3 separate regions of the Homo sapiens genome follow, and all the other regions are linked to region 3. Evidence: fine-mapped expression QTL. A gene starts in region 3. Each other region holds a variant in brackets. All regions are shown on one strand. Distances are from middle to middle.

What was found. PIP is the estimated chance that this variant, and not a neighbour inherited with it, causes the effect. A credible set is the group of variants that fine-mapping cannot tell apart.
Region 1: its variant is the best candidate, but not a certain one, in a credible set for the expression of FBXL2 in gastroesophageal junction (GTEx, PIP 0.79).
Region 2: its variant is the best candidate, but not a certain one, in a credible set for the expression of FBXL2 in unexposed skin (GTEx, PIP 0.78).

The regions. Positions count from the first base shown.
Region 1 is chr3:33,485,120-33,490,595 of GRCh38, reverse strand. No RefSeq gene overlaps it. Among named protein-coding and RNA genes, the nearest start is that of UBP1, 47 kb to the right of the region's middle. The variant G/A (reference allele first, on the strand shown) is at 2,573.
Region 2 is chr3:33,249,850-33,255,325 of GRCh38, reverse strand. No RefSeq gene overlaps it. Among named protein-coding and RNA genes, the nearest start is that of FBXL2, 25 kb to the left of the region's middle. The variant T/A (reference allele first, on the strand shown) is at 2,638.
Region 3 is chr3:33,274,616-33,279,615 of GRCh38, reverse strand. It overlaps FBXL2 (F-box and leucine rich repeat protein 2), which reads right to left and starts at 2,174. Exons shown (of 15, transcript NM_012157.5): 1 at 2,101-2,174. The coding sequence starts at 2,103. LOC124909362 (a long non-coding RNA gene) reads left to right here and starts at 2,262. Exons shown (of 2, transcript XR_007095861.1): 1 at 2,262-2,448; 2 at 4,216-4,369. RefSeq lists silencers at 1,904-2,083, 2,052-2,219, 2,284-2,353.

The sequences.
Region 1 (5,476 bases), 210 kb before region 3:
GACTATAGTCTTAATGGATGGTGGTAGCCATCCAGCTGACGTCCCTGACTGCTGCTGCCTTCCTTCAAGCTCAGTTATTTCCCCAGCCTGGCCCTGAACTGTTCCACCTTAACGATCGTAAACCCAGCAGTTCATTTGCCAATTGCACGCTTTAATTTTTTAATTGTGATAAAAAATACATAGCATTAAATTTGTCATCTTAACCATTTTTAAGTGTAAAGTTCGAGTGTTAAGTATATTTACATTGTTTTGCAACAGATCTCTAGAACTTTTTTATCTTAGAATACTGAATCTCTATACTTTCATAAAATACTGATTCGGCCGGGCACAGTAGCTCATGCCTGTAATCCCAGCATTTTGGGAGGCCGAAGCAGGCCGGTCACAAGGTCAGGAGTTCGAGACCAGTCTGACCAACATGGTGCAACCCCGTCTCTACTAAAAATACAAAATTTAGCTGGGCATGGTGGCACGCACCTGTAATCCCAGCTACTCAGGAGGCTGAGGCAGGAGAATCGCTTGAATCTGGGAGGCAGAGTTTACAGGGAGCCAAGATCATGCCACTGCACTACAGCCTGGACGACAGAGCAAGACTCCATCTCAAAAAAAAAAAAAAAAAGCACTGATTCCTCTTTCCCACTTCCCTCAGTCCTTGGCAACCACTTTTCAACTTTGTTTTCATGATTTTTGACTACTTTAGATACTACATATAAGTGGAATCATATAGTATTTATCCTTTTGGGACTGGCTTATTTCACTTAACCATAATTTCTTCAAAGATTCATTCATATTGTAGCACATGACAGGAATTCCTTCTTTTTTAAGGCTGCATAACAGTTCCACTATATGTATTTATCACATTTTCTTTATCCATTCATCCACTGATGAATATTTGGATTGCTTCCACCTCTTGGCTATTGTGAGTAATGCCACACAGGCATTTGTTGTTGTTGTTGTTTTAACCATTTATGTGTTTCCAGCACTGTGAACAATACTTGGAACATAATAAGTACTTAATAATCATTTAATAAACGAATACAGGAATGAATTAGTGCAGTGAGCCTTTAGAATATCCAAATCCTGGATGGGCAGGGTGGCTCATGCCTGTAATCCCAGCACTTTGGGAGGCTGAGGCGGGCAGATCACCTGAGGTCAGGAGTTCGAGACCAGCCTGGCCAACATGGTGAAACCCTGTCTCTACTAAAAATACAAAAATTAGCCAGGCGTGGTGGCACACGCCTGTAATCCCAGCTACTTGGGAGGCTGAGGCAGGAGAATTGTTTGAACCCGGGAGGCAGAGGTTGCAGTGAGCCGAGATCATGCCACTGCACTCTAGCCTGGCCAATAGAGCGAGAAAAAAAAAAAAAAAAGAATATCCAAATCCCCTAAAAACAATAAAATTGTCCTATGGCTTTTCACATTCAGACTTTTGTTGCTGCTTTATATTTCAGCAAAAAAATACATAATAAATGCTTTATGCTAATTGTTCTTTCCTATGTGGTCTTGCACCAAGTACATTAGATGCATTACTTCTTTTAATTAGAATATTTAAGGCAGGTGTTATTATTATTATTATTTTATCATCATTCCTACTTTACAGAAGAAGAGACTGAGACTTAGAGAAGTTAACTGATTTGCCCAAGGTCTTGTAGCCTACAAGTTGTGTAACCAGTCTTTAAACCCAGACTGTCTGAGGCCAGAGATAGAAAACTTAATCTCTGTGTGTGCTATAAATGCCCTAGCTATTCTACATGAACATTTTTAAGATTTTTCCCTCTTTATGAATATGAGTGTCCATTAAGACCTTAAAAAAAATCCTATGGCATTTCAAAATTGCTTTTGAATGACTGGTGCATGAAAATACTGAGTTTCTAAAAATGTACATATGCGACCTAGGTAAGTACTCAAGTAAAGTAATATTCATAGTTGTTAAAGAAGAAGATGCAGTTTCTATATCCTCTTTTTTACTGGAAGCATTAATATAATGAGGCCTCACAATGCAACTCAAACAACATTTGTCTTGGAGGTAGATGTTGAATAACCTAAAGCAGGGCTGGTCAGGGCAGCAAGAGCTCCGTGGTTGCAGCTCCCTCACCTCCAATTCCCAATGTTCCAGCAGCTCACTGAGACTGCTGATCCTTCTGATTACATCATCCTTTCCCAATTGTCCTTTCTCGCTTTGCTTGTCTGTCTTCAAGACTGGATGGTGAAGAGAGTCTCAGGAAGACATCATACAACATCCTGATGGAGGAGTAGCCAGCCCAGATGAGAACTGGGTATAGTTGATTCTAGGAGGAAGGTCTCCAAGGGAAAGAAAGAGGAGGATTTACTTGATGAGTGGATACATTGAGGGTACTTCTTCAGATTTGGGAAGTGAATTAACATAGGTAAACTTCACAATAAAGCAAATGAAAAGCAAAGGCTGTATCACAATACACTATATCCTCATGTATGACTAATATTTAAACACACATAACAATAATGGAAGCTGACTTAACCAAAAAGTTGATATAACCGTGATGATGCAGGAGGTATGTAGAGTTGAATCCTCACCTTCCACTGTAAAAAGCCAATA[G/A]AGCCGGATGCAGTGGCTCACACCTGTAATCCCAGCACTTGGAAGGAAGCCAAGGCAGGCCGATCACTTGAGGACAGGAGTTCAAGACCAGCCTGGCCAACATGGCGAAACCCCGTCTCCGCTAAAAATACAAAAAAATTAGCTGGGTATGGTGGCACGCGCCTGTAATCCCAGCTACTCAGGAGGCTGAAGCACAAGAATTAGTTGAATTTGGGAGACGGAGGTTGCCGTGAGCCAAGATTGCACCATTGCACTCCCGGCTAGGCCACACAGTGAGACTCTCTGTCTCAAAAAAAAAAAAAAAAAAAAAAGCTGGCCGGGCACAGTGGCTCATGCCTGTAATCCCAACACTTTGGGAGGCCAAGAGGGGCAGATCACCTGAGGTCAGGAGTTCGAGACCAGCCTGGCCAACATGGTGAAACCCCATCTCTACTAAAAATACAAAAATTAGCCAGGCATGATGGTGGGTGCCTGTAGTTCCAGCTACTCGGGAGGCTGAGGCAGGAGAATTGCTTGAACCCAGGAGGTGGAGGTTGCAGTGAGCCGAGATCACGCCACTACACTCCAGCCTGGGTGACAGAGCGAGACACCTTCTCAAAAAAAAAAGAAAAAAAAAAAAGCCAATAGATATTGTCTAGAACAGAATACCAGATAAAATCACTAAGAGTTAAAAGCGACTCCTTTTTGGAAAGTAGCAATCTCATGAGCCAGGAGAGTGGGACAGTTTTGTTAAAAGCCTAATGGTATTAATGGATATTCTAAAGGTTTCTAAGATTTTCCTCTCTTTGATTTTCTTTAAAAAATAGATAAATTACACCAGCACTTCCAGATGTGTGCTGTTCATGATGACAAAAACAATAACCAAAAAAAATCAATGCATGTGTGAATGATATATGATTTTAAGTTTGGGAAAAGATGCAAGGATACATTCAAGATTGCAGACATGCAACATGGAGGTGGGGTAGGAGGACTAAGGAAGAGAGAAGAAAGAGTGTTTGACATGTGGGATATATTAATAATTTCATTTATGTAAATATAGATTTGTATTTATGAAAGTCTTACCCTATGATATTGTTTGGTTGTATCCCCACCCAAGTCTCATCTTGAATTATAGCTCCCACAATTCCCACATGTTGTGGGAGGGACCAAGTGGGAGATAATTGAATCATGGGGATGGTTTCCCCCATACTGTTCTCGTGGTAGTGAATAAGTCTCATGAGATCTGATGGTTTTATAAGGGATTTCCCTTCACTTGGCTCTCATTCTCTCTTGTCTGCCACCATGTAAGACATGCCTTTTGCCTTTCGCCATGATTGTGAGGCCTCCCCAGCCACATGGAACTGTGAGTCCATTAAACCTCTTTTTCTTTATAAATTACCCAGTCTCAGGTATGTCTTTGTCAGCAGCGTGAAAACAGACAAATACACCCTACAAAAAATTAAGTAGGCGTTCCAGTCTTTTCTTCTGCTTCCTTGATCCCTCGCCACTCCTCAGTCTACTTTTCCACAGTCTGCCTTTTTCCCTGCCTTCATGTTTAAACCAGCCGTTATACATCACAAATGTCAGTCTTCAGTGCATGATGTTTGGTCAAAGGAAAGTGATATTTCAGTTCAGAAAATACCCTATCACATCAGTAACCCATGATGGTACGATTTGATCAGACTGATTCTTGCTTCAGATTCCCAGACTTCAGCTTTTAACATCTTTCCTACAAAAGAAAAAGTATTACTTTTGAAATTTCTGGTTTTAATGTCATGAAACATTTTGCTATTCCACAGAACAGCTGCATCAACATCACCCAGAAACTCAATACAGAATGCCAGACCCTACCTCAGACCTACTGAGTAAGAATCTGCATTTTTGACAATGTTCCCAGGTAATTTATATGCACATTATAGTTTATGATTCATATGCATATTAAAGTTTGAGAAGCACTAATCTAGAGTTATTTATGATAACACAAATTTTAATATTGCATGATACTCTGATTTCAAAATTCTTTATTTTAGCAACTAACAAGCAGTTCATGGATTCCACTTTTAATGCTTCCAGTTAGCAGCTTCTTTTTTTCATTACACATTCCCATAGGAAATCTATATACAAATGTATTAACTGCAATAAGGGAATTCCAGTACTGCATCCCTAAGATTACACACCCTTTGTTAATGAAATTTCATGTTGTATCATCATGAAATACCAACTAGCCTGACTCAAGTTACCAATCAAGTTTATTCTTCTGAGAAATAAATACTACAAATATAATTACATTCCATTAAAAATATATATATTCAACTGTACTTGGACATCTATTCAAATGTCAAGCATTGTTCTTGGCACTAGGAATACAGCACTGAAAAAGTAGACAAAAATCTGTTCTCTCATGGAATTCATATTCTGGTTAGAGACAAAAGATAAATAAGAAAAATATAGCATACATGAGATAGTAGTGAGCACTAAAAAAACGGGGAAGGGGGATTTTTTTTTTTTTTTTTTTTTTTTGAGATGGAGTTTTGCTCTTGTCGCCTAGGCTGGAGTGCAATGGCGCCATCTCGGCTCATTGCGACCTCCACCTCCTGGGTTCAAGCAACTCTCCTGCCTCAGCCTCCTGAGTAGCTGGGATTACAGGCACCCACCACCATGCCCAGCTAATTTTTTGTATTTTTTAGTAGAGATGGGGTTTCACCATGTTGGCCAGGCTGGTCTCAAACTCCTGACCTCAGGTGATCCAGCCACCTCAGCCTCCCAAAGTGCTGGGATTACAGGCGTGAGCCACCGCACCCGGCTCAGGAAGGGGGATTTTTTAAAGGCAGAGACATAATGCGATCTTATGAAGGCTGGTCAGTGAAGACCCTACTGAAAGGGATATTGAGCAAAGACGTGAAGGTAGTGGAGTGTGACAGGCAA
Region 2 (5,476 bases), 25 kb after region 3:
CTGCCTCAGCCTCCTGACTATCTGGGACTACAGGCGCCCACAACCACGACCTGCTAACTTTTGTTAGCAGGTATTTTTAGTAGAGACGAGGTTTCACCATGTTGGCCAGGATGGTCTCTATCTCTTGACCTCGTGATCCGCCCGCCTAGGGCTCCCAAAGTGCTGGGATTACAGGCGTGAGCCACCGCGCCCGGCCCCATACTGAACTTTTTACTGGTTTTTTTTTTTTTTTTTTTTTTTGGAGAAGGGGTCTCGCTCTGTCACCCAGGCTGGAGTGCAGTGGCGCGATCTCGGCTCACTGCAAGCTCCGCCTCCCGGGATCATACCATTCTCCTGCCTCAGCCTCCCAAGTGGCTGGGACTACAGGCACCCGCTACCACGCCCGGCTAATTTTTTGTATTTTTAGTAGAGACGGGGTTTCACCGTGTTAGCCAGGGTGGTCTCGATCTCCCGACCTCATGATCCGCCTGCCTTAGCCTCCCAAAGTGCTGGGATTACAGGCGTGAGCCACCACATCCGGCCATTTTTACTGTCTTTATACCTTTGCCTTTTCCAAAATGTAGTAGTTGGAGTCATACAGTATGGAGCCTTTTCAGACTGGCTTCTCTCACTTACCAATATACATTTAAGGTTCTTCCATGTCTTTTCATGGTTTCACAGCTCTTTTATTTTTATTGCTGATAATAATCTGTTGTGTGGATGTACCTGTTTATCCATTCACCTACTGAATGACATATTGGTTGTTTCCAAGTTTGGGTAATTATAAATAAAGCTGCTATAAACTTTGTATGCAGGTTTTTGTGTTCATTTTCAACTCATTTGTGTAAATACCAAGAAGCACAATTGCTGGGTCATATGGAAGGAGTATATTTAGCTTTCTTTAAAAAACTGCCAAACTGTCGTCCAAAGTGGCTGTATCATTTTGCACTCCCACCAGCAATGGATGAGCATCCTTGTTACTCTATAGCCTCACCAGAAGTTTTGGATTTTAGCCATTCTAATAGGTATATAGTGGTGTATAATTGTTCTAATTTGCAGTTCTCTAATGATATATGATATTATCTTTATCTTTTCATTTGCTTATTTGCCATCTGTACAACGCTGTGATCATAACTCACTGCAACCTCAAACACCTGGGGTCAAATGATCCTCCCAACTCAGGCTGCTGAGTCGCTAGGACTACAGGTGCATACCACCAGCTAATTTTTAAATTTTTTTTAGAGACGGGGTCTTGCCATGTTGCCCAGGCTAGTCCTGAACCCCTAACCTCAAGCAATCCTCCAACCTTGACTTCCCAAAGTGCTAGGATTACTGCATCTGGCCAAGAAGTGTTTTTTAAACTTCCACCGTGGCTGTCAATTTCTTTTGCATCCTTTGTCAATTTTTGTGTTATATAAAATTTAAAGCTATATTGTCCGTGCAATAGAATTGAGAGTCCAGAAATAAACCCATACATCTATGGTCAATTTTCAGCAAGGAGGTAAAGATCATTCAATAGGAAAAATAATAGTCTTTTCAACAAAATGTGGTGGGATAACTAGATATCCACATGCAAAAACAAAAGTAAAGTTGAGTTCTTACCTTACACCAAGCAAAAAATGAACTCAAAATGGATCAAAGACCTAAATGTAAGAGCTAAAAAATAGAAGATTCTTAGAAGGAAATATAGAAATTAATCTTCGCCACCTGGGATTTGACAAAGAATTCTTAGATATGACACTAAAAGCACAAGCAACCAAAGAAAAAATAGATAAATGGGGCTTCAACAAAATGAAAAACTTTTGTGTCTCAAACGACACAATCGAGAAAGAGAAAAGACAGCCCACAGAATGGGAGAAATTTTTTGCAAATCATGTATTTGATAAGGGACTTGTATCTAGAATGTATAAAGAATATTTACAACTTAATAATAAAAGGAAAAATACCTCAACTTAAAAATAGGCAAAGGCTCTGAATAGACATTTCTCTAAGAAAGATATATAAATAGCCAATAAGAACGTGAAAAGATACTTAGAATTATTAATCAGGAAAAGGCAAATCAAAACCACAATGAAGACCAGGCACAGTGGCTCACACCTGTAATCCCAGCACTTTTGAAGGCTGAGGCAAGTGGATCACTTGAGGGTCAAGAGTTTGAGACCAGCTTGGCCAACATGGTGAAACCCCATCTCTACTAAAAATACAAAAATTAGCCAGGCATGATGGTGGGCAGCTGTAATCCCAGCTACTCAGGGGACTGAGGCAGGAGAATCACTTGAACCCAGGAGGCGGAGGTTGCAGTGACCTGAGATCATGCCACTGCACTCCAGCCTGGGTGACAGAGTGAGACTGTCTCAAAACAAAACAAAAACCAAGCAAACAAAAAAAAAAAACCCACACAGTGAAATACCACTTCACACCCACTAGGAGGACTAGAATCAAAAGGTCAGATAGTAACAAGTGCTGGTGTCAATGTGGAGAAATTGGAACTCTCATAAACTACTGGTGGGAATATAAAAATGGTACAGCCACTGTGGAAAACAGTTTGACAGTTTCTCAAATGCTTAAACATAAAGTTACCATATAACCCAGCAATTCTTGTAAGTAAATATCCAAGAAAAGTGGAAACATGATTATACAAAAATTTTTATCTGAGTG[T/A]TCATAGAAACACTATCCATAATAACCAAAAGGAGGAAACAAACCAAATGTCCATCAGTAGATGAATAGACAAACAAAATGTGGTATATCCACATAACGTAATGTTCAGCCATAGAAAAGAAATGAAGTACTGATGCATGCTAGAACTTGGATGAGTCTTGAAAACATTGTGCAGTGAAAGAAGCCAGTTACAGAAGCCCAATTATTATATGATTCCATTCACATGAAAGTTCAGAAATCTATAGAGATAGAAAATAGTTGTTTAGGGCTGGAGGAGGAATGGGTTGGTAGGGTGATGATGACTAAAGGGTATGAGGTTTCTTTCCGAGTGATGAAAATATTTTAAAACCGACTGGTGGTGGTTGTACCTATCTGTGAATATACTAAAAACCCTTGAATTGTGCACTTTAAATGGGTGAAATACATGGTTTGTAAATTATATCTTAATAAAATAGCTTTTAAAAAATATATATGTTTTTAGCTCCTACACATTCTTAACAAATATCATCTTGACAATTTGTCATTTTATCAATATGAAATATCCCTCTTGGTCCTGAATTTTTCACCGTGAATCCTATTTACTCTTTATTACTTTACCAGATATCTTGCGTTATTATTAATCTGGTGTATCTTTCTCTATTCCTTTGTTATTAATTTTTCTGTGTTTCTTTCACCAGGTTTTTGTTTGTTTTAGAGAAGGGAGTCTCACTGTGTTATGTAGGCTGGCCTTGAACTCCTGGGGTCTATCAATACTCCTGCCTCAACCTCCCAAGTAGCTGAGACTACAAGCATGAGCCACCATGCCCAGCTTCTGTGTTGTTTTGCTCTAGGTTGTGTCCTTTGGAAGGTTGATTTTAGGTGATAGATAGATAGAAAGATAAACAATTTTTCACATATATGCATGCATAGATAGATGCCCTGTCTTTGAATAGATGAGTTTATAGATAATTTTTCATACATATGCATTTATGTATTATGTACGTGATTTATATAGGAATATGTTGTATCTGCAATATGAGATGCCCTCTCTATGAATTGATGAGTTTAATCTGTCCACATTTATTATGAATACTGTTGTATTTGAACTTGTTTCTGCAAACTTATTTTATAGGTTCCAGGTACTATTGTTTGGGTCTTTTTGCTTGTTTCTTCCTTACTGTTTGATTGAACAAGTTTTTCATTTTTCCCTCTACTTGTTTGAAAGATATACACATTGTTTCTAAACTTTTAGTAATTACTCTTAAAATATCAAAATAAACACACAAACATTTTTCTGTCAAAGTAGTTAATCAGTCGCTCTTTCCACCAAATAAAACAAGAACTCTAGTATGAGTTTTTCTTCCTTTTATCCTCAACCCTTACTTAACTCATATTATTTTTTAGAATTTTTTCTAAATATTTGAAATGGTTTCAAACCCACAGAAAGTTATGGTAAAAGAAAAGTTGCAAGAACAGTACAAGAACTCCCACATATCCTTAACCTAGATTCCCTAATTGCTAACATTTTATCACATTTGCTTCACTTTTGCTCAGTAGAGAGGTAGATAGATATATAATTATAAAATACTTTACTGGCATGATGCTGCATTATCCCTAAACACTAATTAGAGCTTCCCCCAAACAAGAACATTCTCCTCTGTTACCACGAAGCAGTCCTCCAGCTCAGGAAATCAACATTGATCCAACACTGCCATCCAATCCACAGACCCCATTCAAATTCCACCAACTGTCTCAACTATGTCTTTTTTTTTTTTTTCCTATCTGCTCCAGGAATACACTGCATTCCTTTAGCAGACTGTTTCTAAGGTGGCTCTCATGATCCTTGCTTCCTTGTGGTCAGGCCTGTGTATTATACTCTTCCACTGAGTATATGCTGGACTTACTGTCTTCTAACAAATAGAAAACAGCAGAAGTGATGGGATATCACTTCTGATATTTGGTTACAGAAAGACAGTGACTTTTTCCTTGGGCAGTCTCTCCTGCTCTCGTGCTCACTTTCAAGGAAGCAGCTGCCATCATGAGTTGCCCTATGGAAAGAATAGATAACCATCAATCCTGTGTGATAAGGAATTGATGTCTCCAGTCCCTAGTTCTGTCCATAGCTACATAAATGAGCTTGGAAGTAAATCCTCCCTTATTTGGGCCTTGGGATGACCATAGCCCTTAGCTAACAACTTGATTGCTGCTTTGTAAGAGACCTTAAGCCAGAAACATCCAGCTAAGCCACATTTGGATTCCTGTCTCACAGAAACTGCGAGATAATAAATGCTTGTTGAAATCAGTATATCAAAGAGATATCTGCATTCCCATGTTTGTTGCAGCTCTGTTCACAATAGCCAAGATTTGGAGGTGACCTAGTGTCCATCAACATGTGAATGGATAAAGAAAATATGGTACTTATACACAATGGAGTACTATTCAGCCACAAAAAAAAGAATGAGATTCAGTCATTTGCATCAACATGGATGGAACTGGAGGTCACTATGTTAAGTGAAATAAGCCAGGTACAGAAAGACAAACATCGCATTTTCTTACTTATGTGTGAGATCTAAAAATTAAAAAAAAAAAATTGAACCCATGGAGATAGAGAGCAGAAGGATAGTTACTAGAGGCAGTGAAGGATATTGTGGGGTGGGGGGTGAGGAGGGCATGGTTAATGGGTACAAAAAGAATAGTTAGAATGAATGAATAAGACCTAGTATTTGATAACACAACAGGGTAACTAATAGTCAATAATAATTTAATTGTACATTTTAAAATAAAGAGTATAATTGGATTGTTTGTAACACAAAAGATAAATGCTTGAGGGGATCTGATATGGTTTGGATAGGTGTCCCTG
Region 3 (5,000 bases):
AGATTCAAGCAGTTAAGGAAGTGTAATGTGATTTAGAACACAGTTCTGGGGGCCAGGCATGGTGGCTCAAGCCTGCAATCCCAGCTTGGGAGGCCAAGGCAGGAGGATCACAAGGTCAAGAGATGGAGACCATCCTGACCAACATGGTGAAACCCCATCTCTACTAAAAATACAAAAATTAGCTGGGCGTGGTGGCACTCGCCTGTAGTCCCAGCTACTCGGGAGGCTGAGGCAGGAGAATGGCGTGTACCCGGGAGGCGGAGCTTGCAGTGAGCCGAGATCGCACCACTGCACTCCAGCCTGGGCGACAGAGCGAGACTCCGTCTCAAAAAAAAAAAAAAAGAATACAGTTTTGGGGATGACATATATATGCAGCCGCTTCATCCCTCTCCCTCCTGTACCAACCATTCCCCACTTCCATGGAAGCCTGGACACCTTATCAATCAATTAAGCTCCTGTGAGTTAAATTCTTAATGCTTAAAGACAAACAAAAAGCAAAGCATTATTAAGTTCAGCAAAGCAACCACTAATACAAAACTACAGTAAATGCTTTTATTTTAAAGTAAAACTCTAAAATTCACAATAGTGAATGAGGGTGGGCTGTGGGTCAGAACGAAAGAAGTGGAAGAAGTAAAAATAAAGGAAAATGGATGACAGGAGGAATATGAGACTTCAGAGAGCTGTGAAAAATTAATTCCTGGATATTCTTTCTCCTTGCTACAATTGTTAGGGCTTTTCTCACATATAACATATTACAGTAAATTACTGCAATATTTGAAACACTTATATCTTCATAAAATTCAGTTTCTGAAACTCTTGCCAGCTCCATTAATTTGTCACTTAAAAAGCAATTCGCAATTTAAAAAAGAAACATACACAAAATAAAGGCATTACATGGTACTGTGATTTATGGGTGATGTTTTTCTCCTGCCAGCAATAATGCCACACATTTGGAAGTTGCTTTTCCAGAGTCAATGAGAGACACCATCCACCTCCCACCACCATCCCTCTCCTTGGTTATTAAGAAAAAAACTGAGCCAGCCAGGATTCCTAATGATAGTTTTTTCTCCATGAGGCCAGCTGGCACTCGGGGAGCACCCTGCATTCTCAGCTCATCAGCACTTCCACTAAACTCCTGCAGATAAGGAGAAAATCTCCACTTAATTACTCATGGTTAAAACAAAACTAAGTATTTCCCTATTACCTACACCTACCGCCATACCTCCTCAAGTATTCTATACCAAGGGTGTGTCCCCAAGCAAGGAGTCTAGCTCCTCTCTTCTCTTACACCCCGTGAAGGCCTCTGGAGAATTATGCCTTCGGTTGGCAATTCTCTGAACTTGTCTGTTCAAGCCAGCACCTCCGCCGAGTGAAACCGAGCAACGTTTTTAAAACGAGCTTAAAGGGGGCCAGGTGTTATGCCCACGCCGTCTGAAGTTAACTGAACAAAGGTAATGATTTAAGACGTTTACAATGCACTAATTATGAATTAATTAAATCCCTTAGTGAGGGTGCGGCACTCAGAAAAAAAAACCCTCCAGCTTAATGCCCTCTATTTTTTAGAAAGGAGGGGAGGGGTCTCTAAAATCAAAAATTTTAATTTCCACGTGCTAAAAAACCTATCAGAATGCTGATTTTGAAAGGAAGATATATGTCTTATATTAGTTACACATAACTGCATAGAAACAAAACTGGAGGCATATAGACTGCTTTAGTGTAAATATAAATACATATGATATCCATATACAAGATTTTTTTTTTTAACCACACCCTCCTTGGGTGGCTTCCCAGGCTCTCTCGGGCCAAACAGCGTCACGTCGTCCGGCGGCCCACTGGGTGGGGGTCCGGGCTGTCACCCCGACTCCAGCGGCAGGGAACGCTGCATCGCGGTCGCCCCCCGGCAGGCGGGCGCTCTGAATCCCCCAGGTTACCCCTCCCCGGGCCCGCCCAGCCCTGCCCTGCCCAGCAGCCTCGCAGGCCGCGGCCCGGCCTCTCCACGACCCCTGCGCCGCCTGCCCGACCCTAGCGGGCGGCGGCGTGCGGACCCAGCCCGGTAGGGGTAGGGCGGGGCAGCTAGGCAGACGCGGGTCCCAGACTCACCATGGCCGAAGAGCCGCGAGCGAGCCCACAGCCCGAAGTCACACGGCGCCGGCGACGCCCGTTGTCCTGGTGACGCCAGCCAGGCGCCCCGCCCCGTCCCCAAGGTGGGCTCGGAGGCGGCCATTGGTGGTCGGCGAGCACGTGACCCGCAGGGGCGGTGCCCTTTGGACCGCCCACCCCTCGCCCCCGGCCCTGGAACTGGGCCTCTTCGCCTCTCCCACTTCGTATCTGGTCCATCCTCTCAGTCTGATCACCTTGATGTCCCTCACCTGACAGATTACCCAGCCGCAGACTGCCCAGCTGAAAGAGACCATGGATTTTTTTTTTTTTAAAAAAAACGTTATACAGGTAATGCATGATTATTGAAAACATTTTAAATTACCAATAACAAGAATTTAAAAGGATAAAACGACACTCACCCCAGCACCTGAAGTAGCTACTGCTCAGATTCCATTCTATCTGCTTCAAGCTTCCAATGAGTTGTTATAATATACTGTATTCTTAAAAATGGTGGCAAACCATAGGTAACTGTTTTATAATCTACTTTTTTAGATTAAAAATGATTATCTTGGGGCCAGGCGCAGTGGCTCACGCCTGTAGTCCCAGCACTTTGGGAGGCCGAGGCGGGCGGATCACGAGGTCAGGAGATCAAGACCATCCTGGCTAACACGATGAAACCCCATCTCTACTAAAAATACAAAAAATTAGCCAGGCATGGTGGGGGACGCCTGTAGTCCCAGCTACTCGGCAGGCTGAGGCAGGAGAATGGCGTGAACCCGGGAGGTGGAGCTTGCAGTGAGCTGAGATCACACCACTGCACTCCAGCCTGGGCGACAGAGCAAGACTCCGTCTCAAAAAAAAAAAAAAAATTATTATCTTTGCATACCACTTAATGGAATAGCATTCTATGCATGTTGTCTAATTCATTAAATCAACTGGCAATTTGTTGAATGTTTTTAATATGGTTGAAGGGAACTCTAGATATCCTGAAATCTAGTCCATTAACTCTATGAAGAAGGACCCAGTGCGATGGGACACTTGTAGTTCCAGCACTTTGGGAGGCTGAAGCAGGAGGATTGCTTGAGGCCAGGAGTTTGAGACCAGCCTGGGCAACATAGCAAGACCCTGACTCGAAAGAAAGAAAGAGTGAGAAAGGCCGGGCGCGGTGGCTCACGCCTGTAATCCCAGCACTTTGGGAGGCCGAGGCCCATGGATCAAGGGGTCAGGAGATTGAGACTATCCTGGCTAACACGGTGAAACCCCGTCTCTACTAAAAATACAAAAAATTAGCCGGCATGGTGGCGGGTGCCTGTAGTCCCAGCTACTTGGAGGCTGAGCCAGGAGAATGGCGTGAACCCAGGAGGTGAAGCTTGCAGTGAGCCAAGATCGTGCCACTGCACTCCAGCCTGGGCAACAGAGTGAGACTCTGTCTCAAAAAAAAAAAAAAAAAGAAAGAAATAGAGAGGGAGGGAAGGAAGGAAGGAAGGAAGGAAGGAGTGAGTTTTGGTGTGTTAGAAGCAGAAAAAAATGACAAAATAAAAACAACAACAAAAAAAGTTACAAAAAAGAGAAAAAGAATTTTAAAGTGTAAAAAAAAATCTGTGAAGAAGAATCATATTCAACAGCTGACCTGACATCTCCCCCGGAGTGCCTAATAGACATCACAACGTAATATGGCCCTAATTAACCTCTTGATCCAAGTTTCTTACTCCCCAGTCTTCTCAAAGCGAAAGTCCCTACTATCCCCTTGATTGTTAAGACAAAAACCTAGGAATTGTCCCTGATTCCGCTGTTTCCTCACACCTCACTTCCAGTCCATTATCACATATTCTTGACTCCACCTTAAATTCTCAATCTATCCACTCTACAACATCTCCACCTCACAACCACTATTGTCTCACCCAAATTCATCTCCATATGTGCTATGATTTGAATGTTTGTGTCCCCTTCAAACTTTATATGAAAACATATAAAATGTGACAGTTTTAGGAAGAGGACCTCAAGGAGGGGAGTAGGCCGTGAGAGCTCTGTCCTCATGAATGGGATTAATGCCCTTATAAGAGAGCCTGAGGGAGTGAATTCAGCCCCTTTTTGCCTTTTCATCCCTTCTGCCAGGTGAGGACACAGCAATCCTCCAGAGGATGCAGCAACAAGACACCATCTTGGAAGCAGAGCAGCCCTCACCAGACACCAAATCGGCCAGCCCATTGATCTTAGACTTCCCAGCCTCCAGAACTATGAAAAATAAATTTCTTTTGTTTATAAATTACACAGTCCTGTGGTATTTTGTTATAGCAGCACAAGTGGACTATGACCCCATGTCTTCCCTCCTGCATCCTACACAATAGCAGCATTTTCAGTGGCTTCTCATAGCACTTAAAAAAAAATACAGGCCGGGCAAGGTGGCTCACGCCTGTAATCCCAGCACTTTGGGAGGCCGAGGTGGGAGGACCACCTGAGGTCAGAAATTCGAGACCAGCCTGGCTGACATGGTGAAACCCCATCTCTACTAGAAACACAAAAATTAGCCAGGTGTGGTGACGGGCGCCTGTAGTCTCAGCTACTTGGGAGGCTGAGGCAGAAGAATCACTTGAACACGGGAGGCAGAGGTTGCAGTGAGTGGAGATCGCGCCACTGCACTCCAGCCTGGGTGACAGAGCAAGACTCTGTGTCCAAAAAAAAAGAAAAAAGAAAAAGAAAAAAATACAAATGCTTTCCATGGTCTACCAAAATGGTACACGATGGAGGCCTTGCCCACTGCACCAACTCCATCTCCTGTCACTCTTCCCTCATTCACGCCACACTAACCACACTTTTATTTCCTGAGGTTCCTCAAACGCATCAAATACTTTTGTACTTAAAAGCCTCAATAATATCTGCTTCCTTTATATGGAATATTC